2 separate regions of the Homo sapiens genome follow, and region 1 is linked to region 2. Evidence: fine-mapped expression QTL. A gene starts in region 2. The other region holds a variant in brackets. All regions are shown on one strand. Distances are from middle to middle.

Evidence for each region. PIP is the estimated chance that this variant, and not a neighbour inherited with it, causes the effect. A credible set is the group of variants that fine-mapping cannot tell apart.
Region 1: its variant is the best candidate, but not a certain one, in a credible set for the expression of TESMIN in CD4 T cells (BLUEPRINT, PIP 0.61).

What each region holds. Positions count from the first base shown.
Region 1 is chr11:68,701,047-68,710,193 of GRCh38, reverse strand. It overlaps TESMIN (testis expressed metallothionein like protein), which reads left to right. Exons shown (of 10, transcript NM_004923.3): 10 at 1,694-2,754. The coding sequence ends at 1,886. Among named protein-coding and RNA genes, the nearest start is that of GAL, 21 kb to the right of the region's middle. RefSeq lists an enhancer at 2,717-3,475. The variant TTG/G (reference allele first, on the strand shown) is at 4,170.
Region 2 is chr11:68,746,993-68,756,139 of GRCh38, reverse strand. It overlaps TESMIN (testis expressed metallothionein like protein), which reads left to right and starts at 4,620. Exons shown (of 10, transcript NM_004923.3): 1 at 4,620-4,720; 2 at 5,441-5,950; 3 at 8,774-8,932. The coding sequence starts at 5,480. It overlaps CPT1A (carnitine palmitoyltransferase 1A), which reads left to right. Exons shown (of 19, transcript NM_001876.4): 19 at 1-1,257. RefSeq lists silencers at 4,388-4,507, 4,518-4,807 and an enhancer at 4,508-5,493.

The DNA of each region.
Region 1 (9,147 bases), 46 kb after region 2:
ACTCATGATTGTGACCTACAGGGGTCTTTTTTTTGAGACCAGGGCTTTCACTCAGTTGCTCAGGCTGGAGTGCAGTGGTGCGATCACAGCTCACGCAGCCTCAACCTCCCCAGGTTCAGGTGATCCTCCCACCTCAGCCTCCTGAGTAGCTGGGACTACAGGCACGCACCACCACATCCGGCTGATTTTTCTACTTTTTGTAGAGATGGGGTCTCGCCATATTGGTCTCGAACTCCTGAACTGTGATTCATCCACCTCTGAGTCCCAAACTGCTGAGATTACAGGCGTAAGCCACCGCACCCAGCTGACCCACAGAGGTCTTTATCAGTAAAAATTTACCAAAACCTGGCTGCATTGTCTGTGAAGTGATGTGTGAAAATGTCATCGCCTGCAGCAGGATGTGTGTTCTGTGGAGTCCGGTGGGGGCCTGTACATTGGAGCCTCGTCTTGCAGTGTTAGCAGCCCTTCTTTTCCCAAGGGCAGCCCTATCTTTTCTTCTTCAACCAAAGTCATCGTGTATTGTCTTTATAGAGAGACTTTAATCCAACATTTTGCTTTATTTTTATAATCCAACACTTTTTAATGTTTTATAAAGCTTTCCTGAAAATTTTTCGACTTAGCGCCACCTGGGTTGCTATCTAGCTAAGCCACAGTTGCCCCCTGAGCTCAGTGGGGAGAATAGCTGGCGCTATGTGATGCGGTTCAACTTGTCTTCCAGAACCTCTTTCACAGCTCCAAGCGGCATTGATGGGGAAGGCTGTCCTGACAGCAGGACCCCAAGGTTTGACAGGCGAGTCCTCAGAACCTTGGCCTTCTCTGGCTGCACGTGGGCCTGCGGGGAGGACAGGCAGACACCCAGCGTGGACAGGACTCAGAGCAAAGCTGCTCGGCTTGTCCCCGTGCCCTGCCTCAGCCAAGAGTCCTGCTTCTGCAATTTCCTGCCTGGCCCACGTGCTTGACACTGTAGCCCGGGATCCTCTGGGTTCGTCAGTGAATCTAATTTTGAGGAAATTTCAAACCCGCCATGAGAGGCATGTCAAAAACGGACAGATTTACTTGTCCTCTGTGTTATTCTTCTAAAACCAGTTAATCCTTTCTTTCTTTTCTTTTCTTTCTTTTTTTTTTTTTTTAAGACAGGGTCTCCGCCGGGTGTGGTGGCTCACGCCTGTAATCCTAACACTTTGAGAGGCCGAGGAGGGCAGATCATGAGGTCAGGAGATCGAGACCATCCTGGCCAACATGGCAAAACCCTGTCTCTACTAAAAATACAAAAATTAGCCAGGTGTGGTGGTGCATGCCTGTGATCCCAGCTACTCAGGAGGCTGAGGCAGGAGAATCACTTGAACCAGGGAGTTGGAGGTTGCAGTGAGCCGAGATCGTGCCATTGCACTCCAGCCTGGCAACAGAGCAGGACTCAGTATCAAAAAAAAAAAAAGGGTCTCACTTTGTTGCCCAGGCTGGTCTCAAACTCCTGGCTTCAGACCATCCTCCTGCCTTGGCCTCCCAAGGTGCTGGGATTACAGACCACTGTGCCCAGCCTAATAGTTTCCAGTATGAGGAAGACAACGTTAGATTTTAGTGGATGATGTTCTTTAAAATAGCATGGACAAGCAATGTTCTGTTGAATATAAATAGTACTGTAGGTAGAAATGGTGCACTGTTGAGCGGCCTTTAACTGCTCTGTTTCTGACAGGCGGCCTTCCTCATGCATCTCCTGGGAGGTGGTGGAGGCCACATGCGCCTGCCTGCTTGCTCAGGGAGAAGAGGCCGAGAAAGAACACTGCTCCAAGTGCCTGGCAGAGCAGATGATCCTGGAGGAATTTGGAAGGTGCTTATCACAGATTCTCCACACTGAGTTTAAATCTAAGGGATTGAAAATGGAGTAGAGTATAAAGTGTGAATGCATGTTGATTTTGTCTTAGTCTAGAAATCTCTAGTTTAGAAAGGATGTTTAGGGGAACATGAGGCTGGCTCTGCAGCAACAACCAGGCTCCCCTGCATCCCTGGGCCCAGGGAGTTTACTCAGAGCTCTCTGAAGATGTGGCAACCCATGCCCCCTTTTCTGAGGAGGTGCATGGCCTGAGCATTGTTTGTCTGGCCCAGAGGAGAGAGCTTGGGTTCCCATAGTCCTGGGAGAGTGTCTGCAGGGCGGCGGAGGGCAGAGCAGGGCAGGGGAGGGCACAGCAGGCCCTGCGAAGGGCAGAGCGGGGCAGGGGAGGGCAGAGCAGGCCCTGCGGAGAGCTCACTCTGGTCGACTCTTCCTCTCAGAGAATGTTGCTCTGGAGGCTGCTCTGCATGAAAACCCTAATGGTTTCTTGTTTGTTTTTCAAATTATTTAGAAATAAGTTCTCCGGATGGGCTGTTGTGATACCACTTAAAATCTCTAGAGAACTACTGAACACCTAAAGATTTTCTGTAGCGTAGATATTTCCCCAGAGGCACGCGAACTGTCAGTCTTTCCTAAGGCCCCCGGGAGACGCAGGCAATGGGGCCTCGCAGGCCAGGCTTGCACCAGCATGTCTTGAGTTAGAGGACTTAAAATTATCCAGTTTCTTCTGTGTTTCTACTTGAATTGTGGAAAAGCTCTATTATCCAATTAACTTCTCCATAATTATTGTTGTAATATTATTATTGTTTGTAAAACATGGTTCACATAACTAGCTTGTGGAAACCAGCAGGTAAAATGAATTCTTAAGTTGACGCTTTTGGTTCTGTTGTAAAGCAAAGATGAATAAAAATTTCCAATGTCTTCAATTGTTGTCATTAACTTAGTAACTGAAAATGTGTTCATCTGATGAGTACCCACCCTGAAATGTATTGAGAGAATATTCTTTCATGTTTCTGCATTCATTACTAGTGTTGGCCACTTAGAGGGTGTTCAGGAAACTCAAGTACAAATGCAGCAGAGACAGAAGTGTGGCTGCCGGGCCCAGGCACTGGGCACATAAGTGAGCAAGCAACCAGGGAGGAAGCTGTCTTTTGTGGAGCTGTCTGGAACAGTCTAGTTGCAAACACAGCCACAGGAAGCCACAGAGGAGAAAAGGAAGACTGAATTCTTCCCCTTTGCAATTCCCTTTGGACCCCTGGGATCCAGAGTCTGTGGCAGAAAACCAGAGGTAAAGACATGCATTGTGAGACGTGGAACCCTCAGCCAGCCGTACACCCCACTTGCTGTGTGTGCTTTCAGTCCTGTCAGCATCGCGGCGAACAGGGAGGCGCACTGCTGGGGGAGCCACCTGGCCTCCTTCACCCTTGGGAGCTGGAAGGTGACCTGGAAATGGGGACTTTGGGAGCTGCCTCTGGGGGGGCTGCCTCCATCCTGCTGTCCCTCTCGGCAACACTGCCAACAGCAAGATCTGCCAGCCACATGAGTACTGTTAAAGTTTCTAGTAGCTACATGTAAAACTTTGAAAAGGAGCAGGTAAAATTAGTTTTAATAATCTTTTATTTATCCCAATGTATCCAAAATACTATCGTTTCAATGTGTAATCAGAATGAAAATGATTGAGATTTCACATTCCTTTATGTGTACCCAATATTTGAAATGCAGGGTGTCTTGTACTCACAGCAGGTCTCAGTTGGCACCAGCCACACCTTAAGGGTTCGGGCGCCTCAGCACAGCCCTGGGGCACCGAGTGGAGGGAGGAAAAGGGAACAATGTCCTCCAGCATTCTCCTGAGGCAACGGCTGCCTAGGGAGATCCTGAACCAGGTGTGGCCCACCCGCGGAGCCCAGAGGAAGTGTGAGCAGGGAACTCAGTGTGGGGCTGGGGATACAGGCCCCCCACTTTGCACAGGAGCCTGCGCTGGCCAAGGATGCTCTGACTGTGGCCAGGTGTACTGAGCTAACGCCTGGAGGTGAGGGAAGAGCCAACCTGGGCAGGCACGAGCCCTGCAGGGTCTTCCGGCAGAGAAGAATTCACTGAGTAGGTGCCACTTGCAGGGAATCCCGTCTGAGAAGTGAAAGCCGAGATACAGACGTGCATAAAGCCACTATGCTGACCAGAGACAGTACAGAAGATGACTACAAAGCTAGAAAATCCCATCTCTTATGTGTTTGGCGGAGAGCCAGTGCTATTTTAAAACGATATACAAATTAACATATCATGTTCTTATTTGAGAGTGTAGCTGTGCAAATTTAACCATATCTTTTTTTTTTTTTTTTTTTTT[TTG/G]AGACGGAGTCTCACTCTGTTGCCCAGGCTGAAGTGCAATGGCGCGATCTCGGCTCACTGCAACCTCCGCCTTCTGGGTTCAAGTGATTCTCCTGCCTCAGCCTCCTGAGTAGCTGAGATTACAGGCGCGCACCACCACGCCCGGCTAATTTTTGTATTTTTAGTAGAGGTGGGGTTTCACCATGTTGGCCAGGCTGGTCTTGAACTCCTGATCTCAGGTGATCCGCCCCCCTGGGCCTCCCAAAGAGCTGGGATTACAGGCGTGAGCCACCGCGCCCAGCCTTAACCATATCTTTCTACTCTGTACCTACTAAATAACTCGGACCACCTTTGTGATTAAGGTTAGATTATCTGTTGGTTTTGGGTTTTTGTTTTGTTTATCCGAAAGAAAAAAAAACCTTGTTTTTTCATAGACACGGAGAAGAAATCATTGTTTAGAATGACACGCGCTGAAATCGCTCTTTCCTGTCAGTGAACACAGGCTGCGCACTGCACAGAAAGTCTGGCGGCCAGGGAGCATCCTTAGGAGAGAAGGTGCTGTTGGCGGCGGAAGGTCAGCAGAAGGCTTGGTGTATTTTTCATCTCGGCTTGGATGCTCCTATCCCTTTACAAACCTCTCACCAGTACCTGAAGTTCTGCCAGCACTGGTCCCCTTTCAGTGTGGGCGCGGTTTCAAACCATAATAAACAAGTTATCGTAAGGAGTCAGTTAAAATACTGTCTTAGGGAATTCAAAGGTTGAACCCTCATCCAAGATAAAATGATCAGAGCAGCCAGAGGATCCAGAGAGCAGGAGGGGGCGCAGAAGACGAAGCAGGGAGGAGGCCTCCCGTTCTGCAGGCGGCGCGCTCTTTAGGAAGGCACCGGGCACAGCTTTGTGCATGGGGCCGGCTGTGCGGTCTCCGTGCTGCACTCTCTCCCCAGGAGTCCTTAGCCTCAGAGGAGGGAGGAAGCACGACAGGAGGGATCACCGTGAGGCATCTTCCCCCAGCCCTGCCTCCATCCTGCTCCCAACCCCCGGCCCCCGGCAGAGACTGGAGAGCCACAGGGAGCACTGCCCGGCCCCAGCCACCGATAAAACTGGAATTGAAGACTGTCATTGCATGGATGTTCTCTTCATATATTTAAAAATGACTATCAGGAAAAAGTTTGAGCCTCCTAAAAATGGTAGCTGGTTTGTTTTTCAACAACAAACTTTAATAAAAACTTTAATGTTTGATATTTTAAATTTTGCCTTGACTTTCAGGAAATTCAAAAGTAAATCTATTCAATACCAGAAATCACATTAGCCCAGGTTTAGGATTAACTGTCCCTCTCTTTTTTCCATAAAGCTTTACTTTTTTAAACATGCTTTTTATTTGTACTATTACATACATCTTTTACTGTAAACCATTTCATATGTTTGTTGGAAATAGATGGACTATAGAAACATTATTACCGAATTATGAAGACAGAGTCTGCAGTGACAACCTTTTTAATGATGATTCCCTAGAAATATATATATTTTAATAGAGGCAGAGTCTCACTCTGTTGCCTATGCTGTAGTGCTGTGGTGCGATCATAGCTCACTGCAGCCTCAAACTCCTGGCTTCAAGCAATGCTCCCAGGTAGCTAGAACTACAGGCTCACACCATCATACTCAGCTAAGTTTCTGTATTTTTATTTTTTGTAGAGACAGGGTCTTGCTATATTGCCCAGGCCTCAAACTCCTAGCCTCAAATGATCTTCCCTCCTTGACCTCCTGAAGCACTGAGATTACAGGTGTGAGCCACCATGCTGGGTCTCTATTTATTTATTTTTTTTACTAGAGTATTTTTTAGGGTAGTTTTAGGTTCACAGCAAAACTGAGCAGAAAGTGCAGAGATTTCCCATATAATCCATGCCCCCCAACACCGCAGCCTCCCCACTACCAACATTCCTCACCAGAGCCGTCCTTTTGTTACAACTGATGAACCTACAGTGATACACCATCATCCAAAGTGATACACCACAAACCCAAAGCCCATGCTGACGTTAGGATTCCCTCTCGTTATTCCACATGCTATGGGTTTTGACAAATGTACAATGGCACATATCCAGGGTTACAGCACACAGAACAGTCTCACTGCCCTAAACCACCCCTGTGCTCTGCCTGTTCATCCTTCCCTCCCCACAACTCCTGGCAATCACTGATATTTTCACTCTCTCCACAGTTTTACCTTTCCCAGAATGTCACTTAAGTGGGATCATACAGTAGGTCGCCTCTTCAGACTAGCTTCTTTCACTTAGTAATATGCATTTATGTCCTTCATATCTTTTCATGGCTTGATAGCTCATCTCCTTTTAGCACTGAATAATATTCCATTGTCTGGATATACCACTGTTCATCCCTTCCCCTCCTGAAGAACATCTGAGTTGCTTCCAAGTTTGGGCAACTCGGAATAAAGCTGCTGTAAATATCTGTATGTAGGTTTCTGTGTGGATGCAAGTTTTTAATGCCTTTGGGTAAACATCAATGGATTTACCCAATGATTCTGGATCATGTAATAAGAATATATTTAGTTTTGCATGAAACCACTATCTTCTTCCAAAGAAGCTGTTTCATTGAGTATTCCCACCAGCAGTGAATGAGAGTTTCTGTGGCTCCGCCTCCTCACCAACACATAGCGTTGTCAGTGTTTGGGATTTTGCCGGTTCTAATAGGTGTGTACTGGTATCTCATTGCCATTTTAATTTGCAGTTCCCCAGTGACATATGATGTTGAGCATATGTCCATATGCATACTTGCCAACTGCATATCTTCTTTGGTGAGATGTCAGTTGAGGTCTTTTGCTCATTGTTTAATTGGGTTGTTTCTTTTCTTATTGTTGGGTTTTAAGAATTCTTTGTATATTTTGGATAACAGTCCTTTATTAGATACGTCCTTTGCAAATATTTTCTCCCAGTCTGTGGCTTGTCTCCTCACTCTCCTGACAGTGTATTTTGCAGAACGGAAGTTTTTAATAAAGTCCAGCTCATCAATTTTTTTTTTCGTGGATCATGCCTTTGGCATAGTGTCTAAAAAATCATTGCCATATCCAGACCATCCATACTTTCTCCTGTGTTATCTTCTAGGGATTTTATTTTATTTTATTTTATTTTTGAGATGGAGTCTCTCTCTGTCCCCCAGGATGGAGTGCAGTGGGGCAATCTCAGCTCACTGCAACCTCCGCCTCCTGAGTTCAAGTGAGGCGACCCTCCTGCCTCAGCCTCCTGAGTAGCTGGGATTACAGGCGCCTGCTACCACACCTGGCTAAGTTTTGTATTTTTAGTAGAGACGGGGTTTCACCATGTTGGCCAGGCTGGTCTCGAACTCCTGACCTCAAGCAATCCTCCCACCTTGGCCTCCCAAAGTGCTAGGATTACACGTGTGAGTCACTGCACCTGGCCAATCTTCTAGGAATTTTATAGTTTACAACTTACATTTAGGTCTATGATCTATTTTGAATGAATTTTTGTGAGAGGGATAAGAGGCTTTATCTAGTCTTTTTTTGCATATGAATGTTCAGTTGTTTTGGCACCTTCTGTCAGAAAGGCTGTCTTTTCTCCATGGTATTGCTTTTGTTCCTTTGTCAGATATCAGTTGGCTCTATTTGTATGAGTCTGGGCCCTCTATTCTGTTCCATTGATCTATTTTTCTATTCTTTTACTAACACCACACCATCTTGATTACTGTAGCTTTATAGTAGCCTTCCAACTTTGTTCTTTTCTTTCCATTTTTTTTTTTTTGGCTATTCTGGGTCTTTAGGCTCTCCACATAAACTTTAGAATCAGGTTTTTTGTTTGTTTGTTTGTTTGTTTGTTGTTTTTGAGACAAGATCTCACTATGTTGTCCAAGTTGGAGTGCAGTGGCATGTGATCATAGCTCATTGCAGCATTGACCTCCCAGACTCAACTGATCCTCCTGCCTCAGCCTCCTGAGCAGCTGGGACCACAGGTGTACATCACCATGCCTGGCTAATTTTTTTTATTATTTATAGAGACAAGGTCTCACTATGTTGCCCAGGGTGGTCTCAAACTCCTGGGCTCAAGCGATCCTCCTGCCTTGGCCTCACAGAGTGCTGGGATTATAGGCATGAGCCACCATGCCTGGCCCAGGAATCAGTTTTTTGCTATCCACAAAATAACTTGCCAGAATTGTTATTGGAATTGTGTTGAATTTATACATCAGATTTGGAAGAACTAATATTTGACAATATTGAGTCTTCCTATCCACAAGCATGGAATATTTCTCCATTTATTTAGCTCTGTATTTATTTCTTTCATCAGAGTTATATAGTTTTCCTCATATAGGTTTTGGTAAATGCATGCCTAAGTATTACATTTTTGGGAGGTGCTAACGTAAGTGGTATTGCATTTTTAATTTCAAATTTTACTTGTTCATTGCTGGTATATAGGAAAGCTATTGACTTTTGTTTATTAACCTTGTATCCTGCAACTTTGCTATAATTGCTTATTAATTCCAGGACATTTGTTGTTGTTGTTGATGATACTTTTAGAGTTCTACATAGATGATCATGACGTCTGCAAACAAAGCTTTATTTATTCCTTCCCAATCTGTAAACTTCGTATATCCTTTTCTTATCTTATTGCATTAACTAGGCATTCCAGTACAATGTTTAAAAGAGTGATGAGAGGGGACATCTTTGGCTTCTTTTCTCACTATTAATTATGATATTAGCTGTAGGTTTTCAGTAGGTGTTCTTTACCATGTTGACAAAATTCGCCTCTATTTCTAGTTCTTATTAGGAATGGGTGTTAGACTTTGTAAAATGCTATTTCTGTGTGCATTGATATAATTAATGGATCTTTCTTCTTTAGCTTGTTGATTTGATTAATTACATCAATTGATTTTTGAATGTTAAACCAGCTTTGCATACCTGTGATAAATTCCACTTACTCATGGCATATAATTTTCTTTACACATTGTTGGATTTAACTTGCTAGTATTTTGTTGAG
Region 2 (9,147 bases):
CGTGCCTTTTTTTTTTTTTTTTTTTTTGAGATGGAGTTTCACTCTTGTTGCCCAGGCTGGAGTGCAGTGGTGCAATCTCGGCTCACTGCAGCATCTGCCTTGCAGGTTCAAGCGATTCTCCTGTCTCAGCCTCCCAAGTAGCTGGGATTACACGCCCAACACCATGCCCTGCTAATTTTTGTATTTTTAGTAGAGACGGGGTTTCATCATATTGGTCAGGCTGGTCTCGAACTCCTGACCTCAGGTGATCCACCTGCCTCAGCCTCCCAAAGTGCTGGGATTACAGGCATGAGCCACCATGCGCGGCCCACATGCATGTTTTATGTATGTATACTTCATGATGTAAAAATCCCACCTTTATGGGCCAAAGATTTTTTTTCTCCTGAAAGCAAGAAAAAATGAAAACAAAAGACAAAAAAAAAAAAAAAAGCGTCCAGGCGCGGTGGCTCATGCGTGTAATCCCAGCACTTTGGGAGGCCAAGGCGGGCGGATCACGAGGTCAGGAGATGGAGACCATCCTGGCTAACACGGTGAAACCCCGTCTCTACTAAAAATTCAAAAAATGAGCCGGGCGTGGTGGCGGGCGCCTGTAGTCCCAGCTACTCAGGAGGCTGAGGCAGGAGAATGGCGTGAACCCGGGAGGCGGAGCTTGCAGTGAGCCGAGATCGCTCCACTGCACTCCAGCCTGGGCGACAGAGCGAGACTCCGTCTAAAAAAAAAAGCAAAAACAAACCAACAACAAAAGCCCCTGACTGTCCGTCAAGCAGGCAGCGGGGATGTAGCTCTCTCTGCCCTGGGCAAGAATAGCACTTCCCGTTAAAAGCCAGCAGCCGGCGTCAGTCCCTATCAGAGCCAGCTAGATCATGCACTGTTGACCACTGAGCAATCTGTGTTACACTAGAGTTCACAGGGCATTTTGAGTGTAGACGTGAGTGCTTAAACATATTTGGGTTTCTCTCTCAGGTTTTAAATGTTTCAAATGTAATTGTTGCTCATCAGTGCAGTTATCAATGCAATTTTATATTCCTTGAGGGGAGAAAGAGGGGTCTTATTGTACATGTCCAAGGGGGGTGATAAGAGTATTATCTGTTTAATTTAATTGGAACAAACCATTGTCTTAACGCAGCCATGGTTTGAATTTGTTATCTTGGGCTGACCGGTGCATGTAAATACAGTATGCTCTTTGGATGTAAATCTTAGAAATGCAGTGTGAATGTAGGTTATCATTAATAAAACATTAACCCCAGTCTACTACAAGATTTGTTTCTGTCTCTTTTGTTATATTAAGGGGATTATAAGTCAAGGACCAAGTTCAGATACTTGAGACAAAGTGGAAAGTCTCAGCATATGGAAACAAGGCCTTGGAGGAGACCATGGACATCACCAAGTTCATGTGCTGGGCTGGAAAGAAAAGCCTGTTGATTTTCACTTGCTGTGCATTTATTCATCCATTCCATTGCCTCAATGCTGAGAACAGTGCCTGACACATAAAAGATGCTCAATAAATATGTTAAAAGTAATGCATGAATTCCATTTTTCTGTTTTTCTTGAGCACCTGTATTAGGCCATTCTCACATTGCTGTAAAGAAATAGCTGAGACTGGGTAATTTATAAGAGGTTTAATTGGCTCTCAGTTCTGCAGGCTATACAGGAAGCATGGAGGCATCTGCTTCTGGGGAGGCCTCAAACAGCTTTTTACTCATGGTGGAAGGCAAAGGGGGAGCAGGCATTCTACATGGTGAAAGGAGACAGAGAGAGAAAGAGAGGAGGTGCTCTCTTACACATTTGCAAACAACCAGATCTGAGAGAGAGAGAGGAGGTGCTCTCTTACACACTTGCGAACAACCAGATCTCACAGGAACTCACGCACTCTATGGTGAGGACAGTAGCAAGAGGGATGGTGCTGTTCATGAGAAATGCACGCCCATGATCCAGTCACTTCCCATCAGGCCCCACCTCCAACATTAGGGATTACCACTGAACCTGAGATTTGGGTGGGGACACACATCCAAACCATATCAGCGCCTGTTCTAGGCACTGGGGAGACAGCAGTGACCCCACCAGGTTCTGGCTGTCTCATTAGTCCATTTTTACATTGCTGTAAAGAACTTCTTGAGACTGGGTAAGTATAAAGGAAAGACAGTCAATTGACTCACAGTTCAGCATGGCTGGGGAGGCCTCAGGAAACTTATAATCATGGCAGAAGGTGAAGGGGAAGCAAGAAACCTGTTACATGGCAGCAGAGGAGAGAGAGTGAGGGGGAATTGCCGAACACTTTTAAGCCATCAGATCTTGTGAGAACTCACTTCTTATTGCAAGAACAGCGTAGGGGAACCGCCTCCTTGATCCAATCACCTCCCACCAGGCCCCTCCCTTGACACAGAGGGATTACAATTCAAGATGAGATTTGGGTGGGGACACAGAGCCAAACCATATCACAGAGGAAAAAGAGAACAAGCCAACCAGTTGAAGGATTTTAAGTGTTCTGAGGCAACTAAGAGGATCATTGGGAGGGGGTGGTAGCTGGCAGGGAGGTTGACCCACTTAGAGTGGGTTGAGCTGAGACCTGAGAGACTCGACGGAGCCAGCCCGGCCAGTGCAGCAGGGCAGCAAGCATCTAGGAGCAGCAGGTGCAGAGCCTCCAGGCTTGATTGCAACCCGTGGGTGACCCCCACAGGTGGCTGTGTATGCCTGGCATGATGCTACTCAGTAGACGTCTGATTCTGATTAGTAAACGAATGAACGGTGCAACCTTGTGGGTTACTCTCTCGCTTGGGCCACTCAAGCTATGCATAATTCTTGGGCTCTTCGATTTATTATTTTTATTATTTTTTCTGCTTCTGTGAGTGTTTTTTGTTGTTGTTGTTTTTGTTTGTTTGATTTTTGAGATGGAGTTTCAATCTTTTTGCCCAGGCTAAAGTACAATGGTGCAATCTCAGCTCACTGCAACCTCCGCCTCCCAGGTTCAAGCAATTCTCCTGCCTCAGCCTCACAAATAGCTGGGATTGCAGGTGTGCACCACCATGCCTAGCTAATTTTGTATTTTTAGTAGAGACAGGGTTTCACCATGTTAGTCAGGCTGGTCTTGAACTCCTGACTTTAAGTGATCTGACCACCTTGGCCTCCCAGAGTGCTGGGATTACAGGCATGAGCCACCACGCCCAGCCCCAGGCAAAATTTTCTTGATTTTTGAATGTTAAATGTACAACTAAATAGTACACGGTGTTGCTGTGCCTTGGGTACTACCCTTTAAAAATTTAGAAAAGTATTTAATTTTTAAAAGTGAGATTAGAAAGCTGATGTTTTACATTCTTTATTTTTACCAAAACAGTACCTGAGTAGACAGTACCTGAGGCTGTCTCCCCAGCACCCACTCCCACCAGTCCCTCTACACCCTTTGCAGTTTTCGCCATCACTTGAATTAAACTTTCACCTCCTCTTGATTAAACAGTGATATCTATTGACTCCTTAAAGATGAAATAGCTCATTCCCCACCCAAAATTTGAGACTTTCATTGTATTTGTGAGTTTTTTTTTTTTTTTCTGAGAGGGAGCCTTTCTCTGTTGGTCAGGCTGGAGTACAGTGACACAATCTCAGCTCACTGCAACCCCCATCTCCCAGGTTCAAGCCTCAGCCTTCTATGTAGCTGGGACTACAGGCGTGCGCCACTACGCCCAGCTAGTTTTTGTATTTTTTAGTAGAGACGGAGTTTCACTATATGTTGGCCAGGCTGGTCTCGAACTCCTGACCTCAGGTGATCCACCCGCCTCGGCCTCCCAAAGTGCTGGGATTACAGACGTGAGCCACCACGCCCAGCCGTATTTGTTACTTCTATTTCGGGACCAACTCCATCAGTTGCACCTGTAAGCTGCGTCACCAAGGACCGGGAGTGGGTGCAAGGCTGGGAACGTGCGGTGCAAGCCCCTGCCCTCTGTCCACCCGCAGCGTCCCAGGCCGGGATCTGTCTTGAGAGCTCGAGTGTAGAAAAATGTTTTATTTTATTTTATTTATTTTTTTGAGACGGAGTCTAGCTCTGTGGCACAGGCTGGAGTGCAGTGGCGGGATCTCGGCTCACTGCAACCTCCACCTCCCGGGCTCAAGCGATTCTCCTGCCTCAGCCTTCCAAGTAGCTGGGATTACAGGCGCGTGCCACCACGGCCAGCTAATTTTTGTATTTTTAGTAGAGACGGGGTTTCACCATGTTGCCCAGGCTGGTTTTGAACTCCTGACCTCAAGTAATCCGCCTGCCTCGGCCTCCCAAAGTGCTGGGACTACAGGCGTGAGCAACCACGCCTGGCCAGAAAAATATAACTGAAGCCCAAGGTCAGAAGCCAAGCTAGGCAGTCCCACTTAGCGCTGCCCGAGTTGATGGGGACCTCAGTTTCCCCACCTGAGCCTGGATCGGCTGAACCTGGGAGTGCCTCCCCTGACCCGCTCTGGCAACAGCGGCAGTCCAGGCCCCGCCCCTCGCGACTCTGTCTCCTCCCGCCCCAGACCACGCCCACCACACCTCCCTGGCCCCGCCTTTACCTCCCCGCCCCGACCTCGACTCCGCCCCACGCCCAGGCCCCGCCCACTGCCCGGGCGCCTCTTCCCCTCCCCCCAGGTTCCTGTCCCTCACCCTTCCCCCTTCTCCAACCGCCAACGGCCGCCTGCGCCTGAGGCCCGGCCCACGCCCCATCCCGCTCGCTCCACGCTGCGGCAGCCCCGGCGGCCCCAGGTGCGTCCCTCCGAGGAGGAATGACGGGGCGGTCCCCGGGCTGGGCCTCGGCTCTGCAGGCGGGGATGGGGGCTGCCGGGCCGGGTCGGGCCCCTGCGGGTGGGCGGAGGGCGGCGGGCCGTGGGCGAGGCCGCCCCTCACCTGGTCGCACCTCACCTGGCCCCCCCTCCCCTGGCTGCTCCTCACCTGACCCCCTCCTCGGCCGCCCCTCACCTGGCCCCCTCCCCTGGGCGCCCCTCACCTGACCCCCACCCCGGCCGGCCCCTCTCCTGGCCGCCCCTTACCTGGTCGCCCCTCCCCTGACTCCCTCCCCTGGTCGCTCCTCACCTGGCCGCCCCTCACCTGGCCCCCTCCCCTGGCCGCCCCTCCCCTGGTCGCCCCTCCCGTGACCCCCTCCCCGGCCGCCCCTCCCCTGGTCGCCGCTCACCTGACCGCCTCCCCTGGTCGCTCCTCACCTGGCCGCCCCTCACCTGGCCGCCCCTCACCTAATCGCCCCTCATCTGGTCGCCCCTCCCCTGACCCCCTCACCTGGTCGCCCTTCCCCGGGCCCCTCACCTGGCCCTCCCTCACCAGGCCGCCCCCTCCCCTAGCCGCCCCTCACCTGGTCCCCTCCCCTGGCCGCCCCTCCCTTGGCTGCCCCTCCCTTGGCTGTCCCCTTTCCTGGCCGCCCCTCCCCTCGTCCTCTCCTCTGGCTGCCTCTCACCTGGCCGCGTGTTGCAGGTGCGCGGCCCCCGCCATCCCGCCCCGCCGCCCTGCGCCATGGAGGAGGGCCCTCTGCCGGGCGGGCTGCCCAGCCCCGAGGATGCGATGGTGACGGAGCTCTTAAGCCCCGAGGGTCCGTTCGCTTCGGAGAACATCGGCCTGAAGGCCCCCGTGAAGTACGAGGAGGACGAGTTCCACGTCTTCAAAGAAGCGTACCTGGGCCCGGCGGACCCCAAGGAACCCGTCCTGCACGCGTTCAACCCCGCGCTGGGCGCCGACTGCAAGGGCCAGGTCAAGGCGAAGCTCGCGGGGGGCGACAGCGACGGCGGGGAGCTCCTCGGGGAGTACCCCGGGATCCCAGAGCTCAGCGCGCTGGAGGACGTCGCGCTCCTGCAGGCCCCGCAGCCGCCCGCCTGCAACGTGCACTTCCTGTCCTCGCTGCTACCCGCGCACCGCAGCCCGGCGGTGTTGCCCCTGGGCGCCTGGGTCCTGGAAGGAGCCTCCCACCCGGGCGTCCGCATGATCCCAGTAAGAACCGCCTGGGGAATGGGCACAGCTCCCCCTCCATCCCTTCCCCAACCCATCTGAGGCTGCTAGTGTACCCCAGGATTTCCCTCTACAAGCATTTTCCCTGGTGACACCACACACAGCCCACCGGAGTCACTGATTCTCGGTAGAGCGTATACTCTTTGTCGTCTTCCTAATCCAACATGCATCGGCCCAGCCAAGCCCTTTCCCCTGGAGGGAATTCTGCCCTGCACCAGTCGTCCAAAGCTGACCTAACCATGCAGACGGCGGACAACAAAAAAAGGGGGAAAGCTAGGACGTAGGTTCCCTTGGGCCCTGTTGCTATCCTTGGCTTAAGGAGAGAGGCCCGCTGTCTGCTGGTAACTATTGTCTGTGAAAACAAACGCAATGTGGTGGAGGGTTGGCGTGTTTGCATCTTGCATTTTTTTTTTCCTTTAACTTTACCAGGCTTGGAATCCACAGCAAGGACTCAGAGTTAATACTTGGATTTTCCGGGCCTTGAAGTCAAGATGTGAGATCTTCCCTTTGCTAATGAGTAATAGCTCTTCAAGCATATGCAATGTAAATCAGAGCCTAAAGAAATGCTTGCCAGCTCTCAGCCGACTGCCCTCTCTAGCTGTAGATGACCGCTGATAATTTTCCGCTTTGTTCTTGCCAAAACTAATGAGTTTTCAAAGGAAACAAAGGGTCCCAGGAAAATGTGTTCTCGACCCCTCAAAAAGGACCCAGCTCAGAAAACGAGACCACTCATCCATGAGGTCATTTTAGTAAGTTGTAGATGAAGCGTTTGTGGGACACAATGCTTGAGTCAGTATTGAGATGGCTGGAGCCTGACCCTGTATCATAAGCCAGAGCAGCAGGAGCTTGGATTTCTGCTCTTCCGGTTTTCTGTTATGGTAATTGCCAGTCCTTAGTGTACAGGAAAAGGATGGGCAGAGGCTGGGGCCTCCACTGACCTCTGTTTGTCCTCAGAGGAGCCATAGAGCTCACCAGTTCCCCCAGCCGTTTCCCAGGACAGAGGTCTTTCTCACAGCCTTTCTCAGAGGGCTTGAAATGTTAAGAACTGCATTTTGCTGCCCAGCCGGATTGGTGTCCAGCGCCTCCTGCCCGTAGGTCCTAGCTCGGCTCATTTCCTCACAGAGTGGAGTCAGAAAGCATTAATCAGAACAGGGAAGATAATACAAAAATTAACCGGGTGTGGTGGCGCACACCTGTAATCCCAGCTACTCGGGAGGCTGAGGCAGGAGAATTGCTTGAACCTGGGAGGCGAAGGCTGCAGTGAGCCGAGATTGCACCACTGCACTCCAGCCTGAGCGACAGAGTGAGACCCTGTCTTAAAAAACAAACAAAACACACACAAGAGAATTCTCTGATGTTAAAGATAGTAAAATTCTCTTTAATCCAATTTTAAGAGATTGCTGGTCTGACAAACTAAAGGAGAGACTTTGCTTTTTAAATTTTTATTGACTGCTTTCTGATTCATTAATAAAATGGACCAGATACAGCACAGACATGTTTATCGTTTAAACAGAATGGAATTATTTTCAGTAAATATTCAGGATCAGTTGCTAATTTCCTTCTTCTAGAAATTCATTCCCACATGTTGACCTTTGTTTTGAAAGGTCAGAAATGGAATTTTAGTATAAGTAGTTCAGATATTAGTTGCATAGGTCTGAGGAAATGATATATTTATTATAGTAGTATTTGTTGATTACAGGGAGATAAGTTAAATCTAAACTGGGATGACGTGCATAGCACATCCCCCAAAGCAGCAAGTAGAAGAAAATTTTATGTGTATTTATATGAAATTTAAAATTTCTAAATAAAGCTACTTAAAATATAGCTAAACTTTATCTCTTTTAAGATTTATACCTAGATGCTAGTCTGCTGTGCTGAGTGATTTGCCCATACATGGGAAATATGATTTGTTTGGGCCTCTGATTTTATTGGGCTGGACAAGCTCCAATTTGAGTCACTATCTGCATTTTGAAAGATACCTGCTCTGTGATTTTTATTTGAGGTCTTCAGTATGTTACCTTAGAGCCACCATCTTTTTGGAAGGGCTCTGTGGCCTGCCTCCTGGCCTTTGGGGAGCCCCACTGTCCTCTGGTCCAGGCAGCTCGGGCAAGTGTAGGTGGAGGAGGAGGGGAGGGGAGGATGCAAAGCGTGGGTTTCCCAGTCCTCCTCACATTCCTACAGATTGTAAAAAGCAGCATCCCAATGTTGAAACAATCCTGATTGTAATTTTTTTTTAACCACGAGGATTCTTACTTTTAAAAATTCTATTGATTTTCAGTATTATCCCTGTATTTCTCCATATCTTTGGTAATTTTGTCATCGGGTTGACAGTTGTTACAGAAGACAGCTTGAACACAAAGCTGGCAGCCACTCCCTACTCTCCACCATTTCATGTTTGTTGTCCTACTATTAAGGCAGGAAAGGGCTACTACCTAATTACAAATCTTCCTATAAACACATCATAAATAATATTAAAACGTTACCAAGGATTTGGGGCTTTTTGAGGAAAAAACAATTGACTAGAACATCTAATTCAAACTACTGAGCATGCTGGAAGAATGTGTGATGGGGCTGGGCTGGAATGCAATGGCACTGTCTCAGCTCACAGCAACCTCCGCCTCCCAGGTTCAAGCAGTTCTCCTGCCTCAACCTCTCCGGTAGCTGGGAGTGTGCCACCATGCCTAGTAGAGACAGGGTTTCACCATAACTTCTACTTATCACTGAGATTTCAATTTTCTAAATTATGCAACTGCAAGAGCCAGTGTCCACCATGTGTTCTCTAAAATAATTATTGCTTTTTTCTAGGTTGAAATCAAGGAAGCAGGTGGTACTACTACAAGTAATAATCCGGAAGAAGCAACTTTGCAGAATCTTCTTGCTCAGGAATCCTGTTGCAAGTTCCCATCGTCCCAGGAACTAGAGGATGCCTCCTGCTGTTCTCTTAAGAAAGATTCCAACCCAATGGTAATTATGCTAAAGAAGATGTGTAGGACTAACATTATACTAAATGCTGGACCCCATCATTACTAAGTCGACTGATCATTTCACTCGTTTTTCATTTCACGTATGTATTGTATCAGGATTTTTGGTTGTCTCATTAGCAAAACAGGGACATGAGCCTTTCACATCTCACCTCTAAGATTCTCATTTCTACTCCATCTTAGCAAATTGAACAAAGA